Linked DNA regions of Homo sapiens. The protein of the gene in region 4 interacts with the protein of the main gene of each other region in a pairwise test. Each region holds a gene or a part of one and is shown on either strand. Other genes may lie near its edges.

Region 1 (4,142 bases), on a different chromosome or scaffold from region 4:
GAAGCAAGAATGTTAAGGACTACCTGGAAAGTTCAGTGGTCCTGAAGCAACTTGACTTGAGCTGGTATTTGTGTATGTGTGGTGAGGAGAGGGATCTGGGAAAAGAGAGGTAGGAATTATTAAATGTGAGTAGTTCTCTTTCTTCTTTCATCAGCCCTTTTCATGGCCTTGGGCAAACTTTGAGCCTCATTCCATTTCTGTAAAAGATGAATTTGGAATACATTTTCAAGGAATCCAGGAAATAACATCCCCAAATATGCCACACTGGTATGATGATTGCTTGGGGAACAGCACATGGAGAGAGGGGCTTTTCATGAATTTCCCTTATCAGACTAAAGGCTGACAATCCAGAAGGAATTCAATTATGAATCCCCTTCCAGAGAGTTTTATCTATCAGGGAAGATTAACACACCACAGGAGAAGATATTGAAGTGTGACACCTTGTTGTCCGGACATCATCATTGTTTGCCACATTCCACCTAAACTATTATATGTGTAAGTAAAAAATGTTTTCATTTTCTTCTTTAAGTGAACTCTCAAATTTGACATGTATTTTGAAAGGAATATTTACATCACTGCTTAAATGGGAAATCAGCATTGCTCGGAAGAAATGAAAAGGTTATTGCTAACACACACCTCAAAACAAAACAATATTTTAAAACTGCAGGCATGGTTGCCTGTTTGAGAGATCTGGAAAATGAAGGCTTTACTCTGTTAGAAAGGGAGATAAATACTAGAAAAATGTTAAATACCATACTGGCCTCAAACAACTAGCCTGTTGGTTTGAAATGGGACGTTCTCACTCTGCTGTTTAATATCGCTTAATGTCCTTCATGCACCCTTAGAGCCATTCATTTTTCCCAAATGGGGTGCATCCCACATTTTAGGATACGATTTCCATCGTTTCTAGGTTAATTTGGACTCATCCTTTAGTTCGCAGATTAAAAAATAAATCCTTCAGAGAAGCCTTCCAAGACTACTGCCCAGCTAAATTACTTTCCCCTTACAATAGGAGGCACTAAATACACCTTTATTGAAAGCCTATTCCCCCATACTACTTCATCGTATTCATTACATTGGGGCACGGTGCATTTATGTTGTCAGATCTCCTATTAACTAGAGAATAAATTCTGAGCGTACTGTGCCTCTCTGTACACTTCTGTAACTTCCAGATCTTTGCACAATGAATACAAATGATGTAAGGAATGACACCTTCACAGTTCCTGCAACCCCAGGATGGTTTAGCCCCACCTTCCCCCTCAGCCAATGACAGGCGCCCCCCTCTGCCGCTCCGGTCGCGGACGGTGGGCGGGGCCACGCCGTGACGCATCCGTGCGTCTGTGGAAGGCTGCGTTTCCGGCCTGAGAAACCGTCATGTTTCTGGGGAGTCACCTCAGCTGGCAGTTACCACCGTGTTAGAAAGCAGCCTCAGGACCGGCCACCTCCATCACTGGCGTCACCATGGGGGCTGTGCTGGGTGTCTTCTCCCTCGCCAGCTGGGTGAGTTCGGGGTCCCGAGTCCTCGCCGGACCTGCGGTTTGCGGGGAAAGGCCTCGAGACCAGAGCTGCACGGGCCTTGGCTCCAGAGGCTCTCGGGATGTCAGCAGGCCCTGGGCTACAGAGGGTCTCCGGGGCCCCAGACGCAAATCCGCGATACCCTCAGGTCCAGCTTAGGCGGCTCGCCCTCCGGGTTCCTCGGGGAACGGAAGAGGCTAGGCCGCCATTGTTTACAATTCGGATGGCTCCGCCCTGCGAGGCTTCCTGACTAGGTTCCTCTGGAGCTGGAGAGGGACCAAGGAATGACAGCTCCCAGCGAGGGGCTCCGGTTCCTCCCGAAGCACCTCTTAAGGTGCCATCATTTAGTTCTAGGTGGCTCAAGTAATATTTTTATCCCCTAGCACGGGATTTGCCAAAACTACAGAGTGTGTGGCAAAGCTGGGGTTTTAGCGGAGGCTTGTCTGCAGTTCAGGTGCAAGGGAAAGAAGCCCTTGTGGATTGTTATTCAAAATTGGAAACCAGGGCCTGAATATTTTGGGACTGCTGTAAGTCATTTATCCGAGGATAATCACCCCAGCATTCCTCTCTTCGAGAACGATTGTGACAGTGAAGTGAAGGTTTAATCACCTTGTAAACTGTAAACATTTTAAAGAGAAAATTATAGGGCCTATAAAAGAATATGCTGAGTTCCCTCATTTACCCACTTCAGAGGAGCGTGATTCCTTGATTCCTCATTCTCCAGCTGATTTAATTGACCAAGTGTGTAGAAAAAGCACACTCAGTTTCTCCTGCTGTACTCACAACACACTTTTGACACCTGATGTGTGGTGTGTGGGGATTTTCCCCCAAACATCAGGCAAACAGTCAGCTCTGCAGGGGATGCCAACTTGGTGCCCTACAAGTCAATTCCGAAGCTCTCTACTTGGAGATAGCATCAAATCACACAAGTGGAGGGCTCAGTCTCACAAGACTGTGCCCACTTTCTGTGCCAATGGCAAGCCTCAGGTTGTTTTACCTGTGCTTCTGACCGGCCACCTATAAATCAAAGTTCCCGTGACCTCCCTCCTTGGCTTTGATTAATTTGGTCACAAAACTCAAGGAAACATGTTTACTGGTTTATTATAAAAGTATTTTATTTTGTGTATTTATGTATTTTTAATTTTAGATTCAGAGGGTACATATGCAGTTTTGTTACATGGGTATATTGCCTTATCGTGAGGTTTGGGTTTCTAATGATTCCGTTGCCCAAACAGTGAACACAGTATCCAACAGGTAGTTTTTCAACCCCTATCCCCCCACCGTCCTTCCCCACTCTTGGACTCTCCAGTGTTTATTGTTGCCATCTTCGTGTCTGTGTTCCCAGTGTTTAGCTCCCACTTGTAAGCGAGAATATGCTGTATTTGGTTTTCTGTTTCTGTATTAATTCACTTGGGATAGTGGCCTCCAGCTGCATCTTTGTTGCTGCAAAGGACATGATTTTCTTCTTTTTTTATGGCTACTATTAATATATTTTTAAAGATACAGATGAAGTGATATGTAAGACAAGGTGTAGAGGGAACGGGTCTGGAGCTTCCATGCTCTGTCTGGGGCAGTGGCGCCATCTCGGCTCTCTTCAACCTCCAAGGGATTCTCATGTTTCAGCCTCCCGGAGTAGCTGGGATTATAGTGTATGCCACCACGCCCAGCTAATTTTTGTATTTTCAATAAAGACGGGATTTCGCCATGTTGGCCAGGCTGGTCTCGAACTCCTGGGGTGTGAGCCACCATGCCCAGCCAAAAGTTCTTCTGAACTTTGTCCTTCTGAGCTTTTATGCAGGCTTCATTATGTAGTCAGCATTCATTAAATCATTGGCTTTTGGTTACTGACCTAACCTTCAGCCCCTCCTTGGAGGGTCAGGGGTGAGACTGAAAAGTCCCAACCTCCTACTATGACCCTCACCCATCATGAAGCCACCTAGGGGCTGCCAGTCACCAGTCATCTCATTAGCATACAAAAAGACGCTGGTTATTCCAAGGATTTTAGAAATTGTATGCCAGGAAATGGGAACCAAACATACATATATTTGACAGTATTACACCAAGGATTCTGTTTCAGCTCTTTCTACTATTTTTCTTTTTTTTTTTTGGAGGGGGACAGAGTTTTGCTCTGTCACCCAGGCTGGAGTGCAGTGGCTCAGTCATAGCTCACTGCAGCCTTGAACTCCTGGATTCAAGTGATCCTCCCACCTCAGCCTTCCCAGTACAGGTGTGTGACACCATGCCTGGCTTCATTCCACTATTTCTTAGGAACAGAATGTATTTTAAGGTTGTTGGTCCTAAATCAAAAGAGTGTTCCATTTTTAAGGGCTTTCTTGAGAGCAGTGGTTTTCTAATTATTCTGACCTTGACCTAAAGAAAGATTGTACATAGTTGATCTGTGATCTGATGCACCCATATAGAGACAAAGTTTTATGAAATAATCGTTTACTGTACAATTTTTCTTTTATCTTCTATCACATTAGAAAATCCTGGTGAGTTGAAGGCCAGGCATGGTGGCTCACGCCAGGATGGTCTCAATCTCCTGACCTCGTGATCCGCCGGCCTCCCAGAGTGCTTGGATTACAGGTGTGAGCCACCGCGTCTTGCCCGGCTTTTACTCTTAAGTT
Region 2 (3,500 bases), on a different chromosome or scaffold from region 4:
ATCCATAAAACAGGGACAATCACATCTACCATATACAAATAGTGTTAGTCAGCCATTTTTCCAGGGAAATTTTATTTATTTGTAAATGTTTTTAATTTTTTGAGATAGGATCTTGTTCTGCTACCCAGGTGGGAGGCACATTCTCGGCTTACTGCAACCTCCGTCTCCCCAGCTCCAGATATCCTCCCATACCCTCTTGAGTAGCTGGGACTTTTGTAGAGATGAGGTCTCCTCATGTTGCCCAAGCTAGTCTTGAACTTCTAGGTTCAAGCAATCCTCCCAAAGTGCTGGAATTACAGGCATGAGCTACTGCACCCAGTCAAGGGAACATTTATTAAGCATCTACTCTATGCCAGGTATTCAGCTAGACATTAAGGATTCTGAGGTCTCTGTCCACATGGAGCTTGGATCAGAAAGAAGTTTGCTTCTCTGGGCAAATAGGCAAATAAAAAGCACCTGCCTGCTAGAGTTTTGGTGAGAATGAAATGTGACTAGGCTTGTAAAGTGCCGAGCACGTAGTAAATTCTTAGTAAGTAGGAGCTGCTATTAATAATAATAGGGCCAGGAGTCCTTTACCAATACTGGGGATGCCACCAACCTAGCCAGGTGGAAGGGTCCAACAGTACACAGGTGGAACTCTTAGACCCTCAAACCCAAGATACAGGAGATGGTATGTGTTTTACCATGAACCTGGGATGGCTGCTGCTTTCACTATCACCTCTCTTACCATAGACAGGGAGACCTGCCGTGGACGGTGGGGATGGAGAGAAAGGAAAACTGCTTTAAACCCAAGGAAGTAGACATGGATATAAAATAGGGTATCTAGAAGGACGTAAGAAAGGAAAGACGCAAAAGATGATTCCAAAGGAGCAGACTTGCGCTTGACCCATCTCCTAGTGTAAGCTTTCCATAGGCGCTCAGACAGTGCCTCAGGAGAGAAAGGTGAGTCTGAGGCCCTTGGACTGCAGGCCCCGCCTGCCAGCTGGCTGAAGGCTGACCAGTAATAAGTATGAAGGAGTACTGGGGATGAGAGCAGGGCATGGGGTGACATGGGGCAAAAGGTAAAGTGCTTCCCAAGCAAGATGGGGTAGGAGGAGATTCCAAACACACCCAGCAACGAAGAATGCAGAGTACTCTGGCTATCTGGGATAAACAGAAACAAGATGCTGGGCACCAGCTGTCTCCAGCAGGCAGGAAGGAGGGGGCTGTGTGAGGATGGGGATGTGAGAAACTACCACCAACAATGGGGTCAAGGCTACCTGCCCCAACCTCCAGTCTCCATCCCACATGAAAAATTTAGGGGGAGCCCCTCAATGGGATGTGCAGAAGTAAGGCTGACAATGCAAGGGCAGCGGCCCTGGGGTCCATGCAGTCTCTACATGATGGTGCCATTGAAGGCAACACCTGATGCATGACTGCCCCGTGGTGAAGAGGACAGGCTCAGAAACCAGACTGCCTGGGCCCACATCCTGGCACCACACTCACTAGCCTGGGCAAGCATCTTCTTTCCTGCACCTTAGTCTCTCTTTTATAAACCAGGGATCACAGGAGTTCCTACCTCATAGGGCCGGTGGGAGATGAAATGAGTATCCACGTAAAAAACACTGTCTTTGTGTGGCAGACAGTGGGCTTTCAGTAAGTCTTGTCTATTATTGGTGGTGTCGTCATTTTAGGCTACAAAAATATGTACATTCCCATTCCCCACTTAGAACATTCCCATTGCTGCACTCTTTCCTGCAGTTTGTCTACAGGGAGCCTCAGAATCCTGCTCGAACAGTCCTCTGGGTGGCCATTACCCTCTTCTCAGATTGGGCATATAAACTGTAATTTTCACATCACTCTGGGCTATGTATAAAATGTGAGCAAGGAAAGAGGTATGGCCATTGCACACTTTTCTTCCCCCTCCAAATATCTCCTCGGTGCCCATTACATAGAAGAAAGTTAGATTTGATCAAAGGAAGAATTTAGACCAGAGAGAAGGATCAGAAAAAATAGACAAAAAAAAAAAAAAAAAGTAGCCTTAGGAAAACGGTGTGACTAACAAATTGAGCCAAACGCCTCCAGAATGTACAGACCCCAAGACAAAGTGTTAAGGGCTGGCCTCCAAACTGTCCTCCCAAGCTCAAACTTGACATGTACATGGACATGGCCAATCATTTAACCAGGCACGACTCTGCTCCATAAGAAAGAAGGAAAAAGCCTCACCGGAGTCCACGAAGGCAGCCAAGAACCTGCAAAAGGCAAATTTAACATCTTCGGGCAAATAGCAAAGTCTGCAAAGAATGTACAATATATTTGGGGGTATGGTATAGTTTTAGCAACCCAAATGTTCCAGAAGACCCTCAAAAGGCTGTGCTAGTTACTGGTTATGTGACCCTGTATAAGATGCTTCCCTTCTGAGAGACACACTAACACCTACCTAACAGGGTCACGGGTCATCCTGTACAGAGCCTTGAGGGGCTCCTGGTGTGTTCATGGGGACACAGAAACTGATTTCTCTACAAATACCTACAGTGTGTGGTTAAAAAGACGGGGGCTTGGCCGGGTGCGGTGGCTCACACCTATAATCCCAGCACTTTGGGAGGCTGAGGTGGGAGGATCACAAGGTCAGGAGTTCGAGACCAGCCTGGCCAATATGGTGAACTACTAAAAATACAAAAATTAGCCTGGTGTGGTGGTGGGAACCTGTACTCTCAGCTGCTCGGGAGGCTGAGGCAGGAGAATCGCTTGAACCCAGGAGGCGGAGGTTGCAGTGAGTCAAGATCATGCCACTGCACTCCAGTCTGAGAGACAAAGTGAGATTCTGTCTCAAAAAAAAAAAAAAAGGGGGGGGGTGCGGCTGGGTACAGTGGCTCATGCCTGTAATCCCAGCACTTTGAGAGGCTGAGGTGGGCAGATCACGATGTCAGGAGATCCAGACCATCCTGGCTAACACAGTGAAACCCTGTCTCTACTAAAAATACAAAAAAATTAGCTGGGCGTGGTGGCAGGCGCCTGTAGTCCCAGCTACTTGGAAGGCTAAGGTAGGAGAATGGCGTGAACCCGGGAGGTGGAGCTTGCAGTGATCTGAGATCGTGCTACTGCACTCCAGCCTGGGGGACAGAGCGAGACTCCATCTCAAAAAAAAAAAAAAAAAAAAAAAAAAAAGGGAGGGCTTTGATGTCATGGTGATGAATAGAGATAAACTGTACAGAGGTTAAGAGCACAGGTTCTGGAGTCCCTTTCATGGGCCCAAGTGTCTTCCTCTTAAGTGGGGATCATGATAGTACTCACTTATAGAGCTATGAGAAGCAGAATCCCTGACCAATACAACAGGCACTGGATAACTAATACAGTTAGGGGAGAGCAGATCACACCTTCGAGGCACTATGGCCAACTGTGAGCTAAGCACAGAGCAGGCACTCCAAGGTCATTTGCTGAATGGCACCTGGATGGGCCAGAGAAAATGGGATGAGGTGGAAATGGGGAGGGCATGAAACAAAGATGAATGGGGTGAGAGA
Region 3 (3,500 bases), on a different chromosome or scaffold from region 4:
TTGTACCACCCACGCCTGGCTAGTTATTTGATTTTTTGTAGAGACAGTCCTAATTTTGTTGCCCAGGCTGATCTCAAACTCCTGGGCTCAAGCAATCCTTCTGCCTCAGCCTCCCAAAGTGCTGGGATTACAGGCATGAATCACTTTGCCTGGCCGCATCTCAACTTTTAAATATCCCTCTCTCAGGTAGTCATAGTCCTTACCCTTTGTTTTGACTGCCTCAACCTCTCATCTGTTATTCACCCATCCTCTTTATGACGTTTCCCTGACTATTGCTTATTTCTTCTGGTTTCGACATCTACATGGGTTGACTTAATTTTGATGTAATAAATGTTTGGTACAGTAACACAAAAAGCCAAATAAAAGAATGCAAAATTAAAACAGGTAATAGACACAGATTTCTATATCTTGGGTGGAAGATTCAAAGACAGAAATTAAAGTGAATGCTAGCACTGCAAAATGTATAAAAACACATTACAAAACAAGTCAGAAGCTTAGAGCCTATTGCTGGAATTTCACAGATGCTGCAGAACACAGCAAACGGCAGCTCTGGATGTGCCAAGCAAAGACTTGCAATGTCACCGCGTTCCATTCCCGGCACTGCAGCCCTGTGCCACGTTCTTCTGTCTTCTGCAGCATGTGACAGAAAGTTGTCTGTGTGGCACACGGTTAACGGAAATAAACATAGCAATTGTTTTTGGTTTTCTGAGATCCATGGAGATTATTAAAAAATACAAATGACCAGTGACAACTTAGAAAGTGGGACTGATTAAACTTTTGAAGGAAAAATCTTATTCAATAAGATTGAGTTTTCCCTTCAGTTAATAGGAGTATTTTATATGTTGATGACACTATGGAAAAAAGCCCAGAAGATACGAAACTGTGTTTTGGTGGACAAATTTTGTTTAAATGCTTGTAATTTTTGAAACTCATAAAAATCATACTAATGTCCTTAATTTTAGTAGCATGCAGCTTAATTTGAATTATGACATCTATAAATTACTTGATTGATTTATATTGAATAAAAATTACTTTAAAATGGAATAAATTGAACAAAGGGAAGAAGAGTATAGTAAGTAATATGTGTAGGTTTGAGAATCAGACTGAGACTAACTAGCCAAATGAGCTTATAACAAGTTTCTTGATTGCTTCTCAGGCTCAGTTTCCTCTTCTATAAGATGCAGATAAAAATCTACTATGGCTATTGTTGGAATTAAATGACAGAATGCAGTAAAGCACTTTGCAATGCAGTGTTTGGCAGATGGAAAATGTTCAGAAGGGTTAGCTAGTCTTCCTTATTCAATGTTGTAAGTAAATTAGGTGATCTTATGTTCCTAATATATGTTCCATCATGTTCCTAAACAAAATTATGTTCGATCCGTAAAGGGCACTAAAAGGCATATTTTCAGTTTCCCCCCACTCCAAACTCAAAACAAAAAAGAATTAACTGCTCTAAATCCTGCATCACTCAGAATTTCACAAATTTTACCTCACTGATGGAGTTAATACCGTTTCTTTCACTTCAAACACAAAGCAGACTCAGAATTCTAGGCCATACCAAATACTTAAACATATATGTTAGTTGGCCTCATATTAGCAGATTGTAACTCAGGGTAACATTTCTGAAGCTCTCCATTTGAACACTGTATTTTAAGTGAAGCCTGTTTTAGCAGAACCCCAACCAGAAACACGTGCATGCGAATAATAAATAACAGTACGTGTTCATTATACCTACATTCTGACCCAACAATCTTTCTAAGAATCCAGGGCATTCCAAGGAAACTGGGTTAGGACATGCCTAAGCAACATGTTTCTGATTCTACACCATTTCCAAAGGCAATATATGTTATAAGTAACTCTTTTTTCTTTTTGGCATATGTATTGCAAATAAACAAACATGGAAAAATCTAGGAGTTCTGTGATGAGAATTCGCAGGATTAATTTCCTTTAATTAGAACAACTAGGGGCTCTGCGGGTACAGCACTGTATGGCAGAACATCCACATTCTAGTCTGTAGAACCTATAAATATGTTATCTTCTATGGCAAAGTAGACTTTGCAGATGTCATTAGTTAGGACCTTAAAATGGAGAGATTATTGTGAATTATCTGGATTAACTCAATCTAATCACACTGTTCCTTAAAAGCAGAAAAGGCAGTGGTCAGACAGGGGGCTGTGACCATGGAAAGCTTGGAGAAGGAGCCACAAGCCAAGAAATGGGGGTGCCTCTCAAAGCTGAAAGGGAAGATTCTCCCCTAGTGCCTCCAGACACTTTGATTTTAGCCCAGTGAGAATCTTGCTGGACTTCTAATCTACAGACAATAAATGTGTGTTGTTTTAAGCTACTACATTTGTGGCAATTTGTTTCAATGGCAATAGAAAACTAACATAATCATTATTCTCATGGCCTTCTTCACTAGAATTTCAGGAGCCAAATTGTATTTGAACTATTTAGCTGTTTAAAAATGTAGTGCTTTGAAGCAGACCTCACTACATTACTTTAAACTTTCAAAATGTAAAAAAGAGTTTTAAAAACAGCTTTGAGAGTTACTAGCATTGGTTTTTAGAGCCAACACAACTTTACTTAAATAGCACAGCTAGTCAATAGTAAATACCTCCCACAGCACCTTTTCCTTTCCAGAAGAACTTTACAAACCAAACCAAACTAGGGATAACCTATGAAGGTTTCTCTATGAATAAAATTAGTTATTTTATTTCATCCACTTTCATATCCTGCTGCCATAAACAAGCAATTCTTTTAACCAACACATTAATATAAATGCCTTTTTTTAAAAAACTGATTTAAGGTTGAGCTTAAGCTGAGCTTGTTACATGTCCCTCCTTCCACCAATATATCGTTCTTAATGGCTAATACATGATTAAAATCATCAGGGAATAATCTTTGAGGTCAGTCTCAATGCCACAGCTCCGACATACCTAAGTTCATCCATTTCCCTCTTCTTCTTCATTTCTTCTTTTTCTCTCTTTTTCATTTCCTGAATTTGGGCTTTTTTCTCATTCCTCTCTTCACGATCTCTGCATTCTTTCTCTGCTGCTAGGTCTGGGAACCGCTCGACTTTGGTCTTTTCTAATCGGTTCAGGATCTCATTTACTTTCTTCTCCACTGTCACAATTTTTACCTTTAAGGGAGATAGGAGAAAAGATATTGCATCTTTTTGTTTTTTTTCTCCCAGAAGAGGGATGAGGCTTTCCAGGGGTTTAGCAACCCAGTTTAATTCCCTTTAGAAAACATATATCATGCTCAGCCCTCAACAACAATGGTGTCAGACAGAAAAGATAGGATACTCCATTCAGTATCAGGGCTCCGCCTCCTTCAGTGGCACAAAACACTTACATCCTTCTGCCTGTGAAAGCCTATCTGCCCCACATCCATGTCAGCTGTTTTCTTCAGGTTAGACCACGGCGTATATACCACATTAACGTTGTTCATCTTGCAGCCTGCCAAGAGAGACTGTCTTCAACATGCAGGCAGGATGAGAC
Region 4 (4,859 bases):
CCTGTAAAGAGGCTAAGAGGGCACCTCCATCTCCAATTTCACATTGTCTTTTTTCCTATATCTCATCATTGGAGGAAGGTGGAAGTTTGTGAGAATGAAACTCCGAGACATTTGGGTTTTCTGAAGGTGAGAAGGTCAACTGTTAAGGTTTATGGTCTTAACACTTCCGAAAGTGAGCACTGGGGTATCAAAGAACCCAAATCGCCCAGGAAGTAGCTGACAAGAGAGTACAATCATTTCCCTTCTGGTCCTCTTAAGCCCTATACAGGAAGAACACTGCTCAAAGGAATCACCTGTGGCCATGTGGAGTCCTTGCCAAAGGACTTTCTCACATGATTCATTATCAGTACATGAATGGAAATAGCTTAGTAATTCTGATGTTATTTATGTTTAAAACCATATAAATACAAACGCTCTTAATCTGTATATTGGAGGGGATGTGGTAACACTGGGATTTCATTATTTTCTGCTTCCTCTACTTCTTTCACAAGATAATGGTGTGTGTGGGTTTTTGCGCTCTCCCCACTGCTGACACATTAAAGAAAACTGCTGACAGACCCACTGCTGTAGATGTAAGGCATTTACCTGGTGCCGACTTTCTGGGATGGCATCAGTGAGTTATTCAGATAAAAACCCAGCCATTTTAGATCAATTTGTCAAATATCAAACCTAAAAAGAAAAAAATGATTAACGCATTCCACTGAATATAGTCAGGTTTTTATTTTTTAATTTACAGAGTAAGCTTCCACACTGCATCTTAAGAGTGTTTTTGAAGGGAGTGAAACCATCTGGTTCACATCAAGAACATATTTTTCCTTATATAGAGCTAGACTGCATTAAGTGGTGGGCACAGGATCTCATCATCTTCCTGCCTGTGGTCAACATCTTCCCCAATGCCCTTGTAGATATACATTAGGCAAAGAGAAAAAGAACGTTTTAGGGTAAAATAGTGCAGTCTCATTCCTAGCCATTTCTTTCTATAGACATGTAAGAAATGTCTATAAATGTAAGAATATGAAAATAGATTGGATTTTTACTTGTGAATCTACAGCTAAACTTAAATGATTCTATTACTTAGTATAAAGCTTATGCACATTTTATTGTACCATAATTTAAAAAATACCTTTTTAAAAGATTACCTTTTCTGTTTTTCTTTTTCCCAGAAGTAATGCTAACGCGTCGTATAAATGTCAAGTTACAGAAGGATGTAAAATAAAAGTAAACATATCCTTACCCTCTATTACTTTTCTCTGCATTTACTTCCCAGAGGTACTACTAATAGTTACCTATGTCTCCTTCTAGGACTTGTATACACATGCATATAAATATGTATATTCATAAAAAATGCATACACATGCATATAAATATGTATATCTATAGTTTTTTCTTTTTGTACATCATAGTATTTTCTTCTTTGTTTCATTTATTTTACTTATGATGGCTAGCAGATTTCCTACATCAGCATATATAAATCTACCTCATTCATTTTGATGGCTGTACAATATTTCATTCATTGTACTCACACATAGTTTATTTAACCAGTCTGCTATTAATGAGCCTTAATCTTTTTTTTCAGTTTTCCTTTTGGCTGCTACAAAAATGTCCCAATAATAATATTTACATATATGCACTTTTGTACTTATATGAATGTATCTATATAATAAATTCTAACAGACTGTTGAACCAAATTGTTTGTATATGCTAAGTTTTTGATAGATATTCATAAAATGTCCTCCGTTAAGGTTATACCAATTTATAATACCAAGAATCTGGGTTTTATCAAATCATTTTTTCTTTATCTGATAAGTAAAAGGTATATCTTTGTTTTGACTTGCATTTCGTTAATTATGAATGAGGTTGAACTTCTTTTCATTTTCTTATTGTTTCCATAGTAATTCTTCTACGAGTTTTCTCAGCCATGGCTTTTGCTCATGTTTCAATTAGGTTGTTTATTGTTTCTCACATTAAAGAGCTCATGTTATGTTAAGGAAACTTAAATTTTACATGTAATGGCTGGCAAATAGCTTTCCCAGGTTTCTTGTTTAGATGATAACTTTGTTTATGGTACTTTTTACTGTATAAGCATTTATTTTTATGTAGTCAAATTCATCAGTATTTTTAATTATATATAGGAGGATTTTTTAAATAAGAAATTTATTTAAAGTTGAAGAGTTATTCAAGAAGATTGTATATAGGTTAATTTTTAAACCAACTTTAGCATACCAAGTTTAGCATTTAGGCATACCAACTTTAGCACTGTTATACAGAATAATGTTAGCATTGGAAGGATCTATTAACAAAAGAAAGTTCCCATAAAATGATTTCTTCTATAAAATATCATGACCGTGTGAATTCTGTGGACTCTTTGTGAGACACTAGTGTACCACAGGAAAAAAAAATGACAGAAAGGGTCAGATTTATAGTACCATTCTCCAGAGAGTTAATAGTAGTTGTCTAGTACCTAAAATCTAGAGTGAATTATAAATAAAGTAATAGAAATTCCAAGACAAATAGAAAGTAAAAAATATAAAATCAATAGAGATCCATTATAGAAAATTTTGTAGGTACATACAAAAGAAAGAAAGAAAAAAAATCATCCTCAAAAGCTCTTAAGATTTGTTGTATATTGTTCCTAATTTTTCTTATTGGCTCCACAGATATGCATGCATTTAAAAAACATGTAAGTGATTTTACTAACAAATCAATCCTAACATAATTAAATGAATTTCATTAAGATGCCAATAACCCAAGACCTTAATGGCACCTTGACAAGCATCTACCAGGTATACACATACATGGGATCACACTTACGATTCATATGTTATACAGTGATTTTTTCACTTACTACTATCTTTACTTGCCACTAAATATTTTAAAATATATAAATTATATATTACATTTTATATTTATACAAAATATATAACAACTGTAATGTTCTATCATATGGCTTAAGTTAATGGAAATTAAAAGGAATAGGAATAACTGTGTGTTCTCTCAAAAATCCACTCTGGTAACTCAGTAGATAATAGACCAGGACATACTCAAGAAATCATTACCCAAGAATCACATCTTTTTCATTCATGATAAAGTGGCAGCAATTAACTGTGTAACTGAGGGCTGGGAGACATCATGATAAAATGTGTTTTATATGAAGTGACATCATTTGAATGGGAGAGTTAGATTATTAAAGCTGGGTTAATGGAAAATTCTCATTCTAAGGGCAGGAGCATTTGAATTGATGGCAAGAAGAATTTGAGTCAAAAAGTAAAGTATATGTGTTGATGAAATTGTAAGTGTGAAGGAAAATATATGTGCTGATAAAGTTGTTAAGTATATGAAATTTACTAGAAAAAAATGCTATGCTACGAGAATTTTTCCAACTGTTAAAAAGAAAAAAATGCTATGCTATGAGATTTTTTCCAACTGTTAAAAAGAAAACCTTGTGCAGATTGCATTCAGCCACAGCCACAAATATTGGGGCTTAGTGAAACCAGGGGACTCTTAGGGGCTATAGAGGGTGATCACTGGTACTTTATTTTTTATTAGTACTAAGAAACTCTGCCTGCTATGTGTAAGATATCTTTTGGGTATTTCTCCTTCTTTCAAACTTCCACTACTTGTCATGATGGCAGCCCTGGATTGATTTTGCCCTAACCCATAACTTACAAATTAGATGTTGTAATGTCAGTGCTACCTGAATATCTACAGTTCTAGATTCAAGGAGCTGGTGAAATTTTATCTCCTACAAATTTTCTCAATACCATTGAAAAAGTGGCTGCTCAGTCCTGTTGGCACAGGTTTCCCCTCAAACATGATCCCAGGGAACCCATACACACCTGTCTTTTGACCAACATCAATAAGCCCCTGTCAAAACAGGAGATATTCGGACAGATCCAACTGATGGCTGTCAGAGAATCTACCTGCACTGGGTGAAACAGCTCAGGGACTGAATCATTTGGGGAGTCACTGGCTTGAGCATTGACTGGTTAGTAACTATATTTTACTACATTTTTGTAAACCATGCTTGTAGTAAATAAGCATTTATATTAAAAGCTGAAAAAGTAATATGTAATTTGAGTTGGAATGCTGAACAGTCTATGTGTATGTAGAAAACAGAAAATAACTTGTCCAATCCAAGGGAGAATTTACTTTATAGCATGAGAGCACCAAAAAGTAAACAGAAAATTTTGGATTTTTATGGGAAAAAATAGAGATATCAAAAGTTGTTATTATTATTATTATTATTCGAGACAGGGTCTTTCTCTGTTGCTCAGGCTGGAGTGCAGTGGTGTGATCATGGCTCACTGCAGCCTTCACCTCCCAGACTCAAGCAATCCTCCCAACTCAGTCTCCTGAGTAGTTGGGACTACAGGTCCCAACTACTACATGGTGTGCGCCACCATGCTCTGGCAATTTTTTATTTTTTGTAGAGATGGGGGTCTCAGTTTGTTGCCTCAGCTGGTCTCAAACTCCTGGCCTCAAGTGATCCTCCCAAAGTGCTGGGATTACAGGTCTGAGCCACCATACCTGGGCTCCAAAGTTAATTTTTAAAAGTATGTCATCTACTATTTTTTTAAAAAGCTTTATTGAAGTATAATTGATATACAAAAAGCATGCATATAAAAATATATTTTAGTGGATTTGGACAGGCTGTCATAGTTTTGGTATTTTTTCAAACAGTTAAAGAAGGAATTTCTAGAATTTCCCATTATTGCACTTAAAGGTAAGGTGACAGGAAAACATTAGATCAAAATGGAATAGATCTTGTTTGCTTTTTTTAAAAAAAATTTATGAGGGAAACAGATTTTGATCTCAAATTAAAACTTTAAATAAATTTTCAAATAATTAGTTGGCCTTAA

What was found.
Region 1: the proteins of AGTR1 (region 4) and SERINC3 interact in a two-hybrid assay, tested with the Homo sapiens proteins (one large-scale study listed by BioGRID and IntAct).
Region 2: the proteins of AGTR1 (region 4) and SAE1 interact in a two-hybrid assay, tested with the Homo sapiens proteins (one large-scale study listed by BioGRID and IntAct).
Region 3: the proteins of AGTR1 (region 4) and CCDC25 interact in a two-hybrid assay, tested with the Homo sapiens proteins (one large-scale study listed by BioGRID and IntAct).

Annotation. Positions count from the first base shown.
Region 1 is NC_000020.11:44,519,271-44,523,412, reverse strand, and holds the start of SERINC3 (serine incorporator 3), read left to right. Parts: upstream 1-1,342; 5' UTR 1,343-1,461; coding exon 1,462-1,500; intron 1,501-4,142.
Region 2 is NC_000019.10:47,203,835-47,207,334, reverse strand, and holds part of SAE1 (SUMO-activating enzyme subunit 1), read right to left. Parts: intron 1-3,500. UniProt on the Homo sapiens protein: The heterodimer acts as an E1 ligase for SUMO1, SUMO2, SUMO3, and probably SUMO4. It mediates ATP-dependent activation of SUMO proteins followed by formation of a thioester bond between a SUMO protein and a conserved active site cysteine residue on UBA2/SAE2.
Region 3 is NC_000008.11:27,745,141-27,748,640, forward strand, and holds part of CCDC25 (coiled-coil domain-containing protein 25), read right to left. Parts: intron 3,459-3,500; coding exon 3,355-3,458; intron 3,140-3,354; coding exon 2,937-3,139; intron 1-2,936.
Region 4 is NC_000003.12:148,703,754-148,708,612, reverse strand, and holds part of AGTR1 (type-1 angiotensin II receptor), read right to left. Parts: intron 670-4,859; 5' UTR 586-669; intron 1-585. UniProt on the Homo sapiens protein: Receptor for angiotensin II, a vasoconstricting peptide, which acts as a key regulator of blood pressure and sodium retention by the kidney.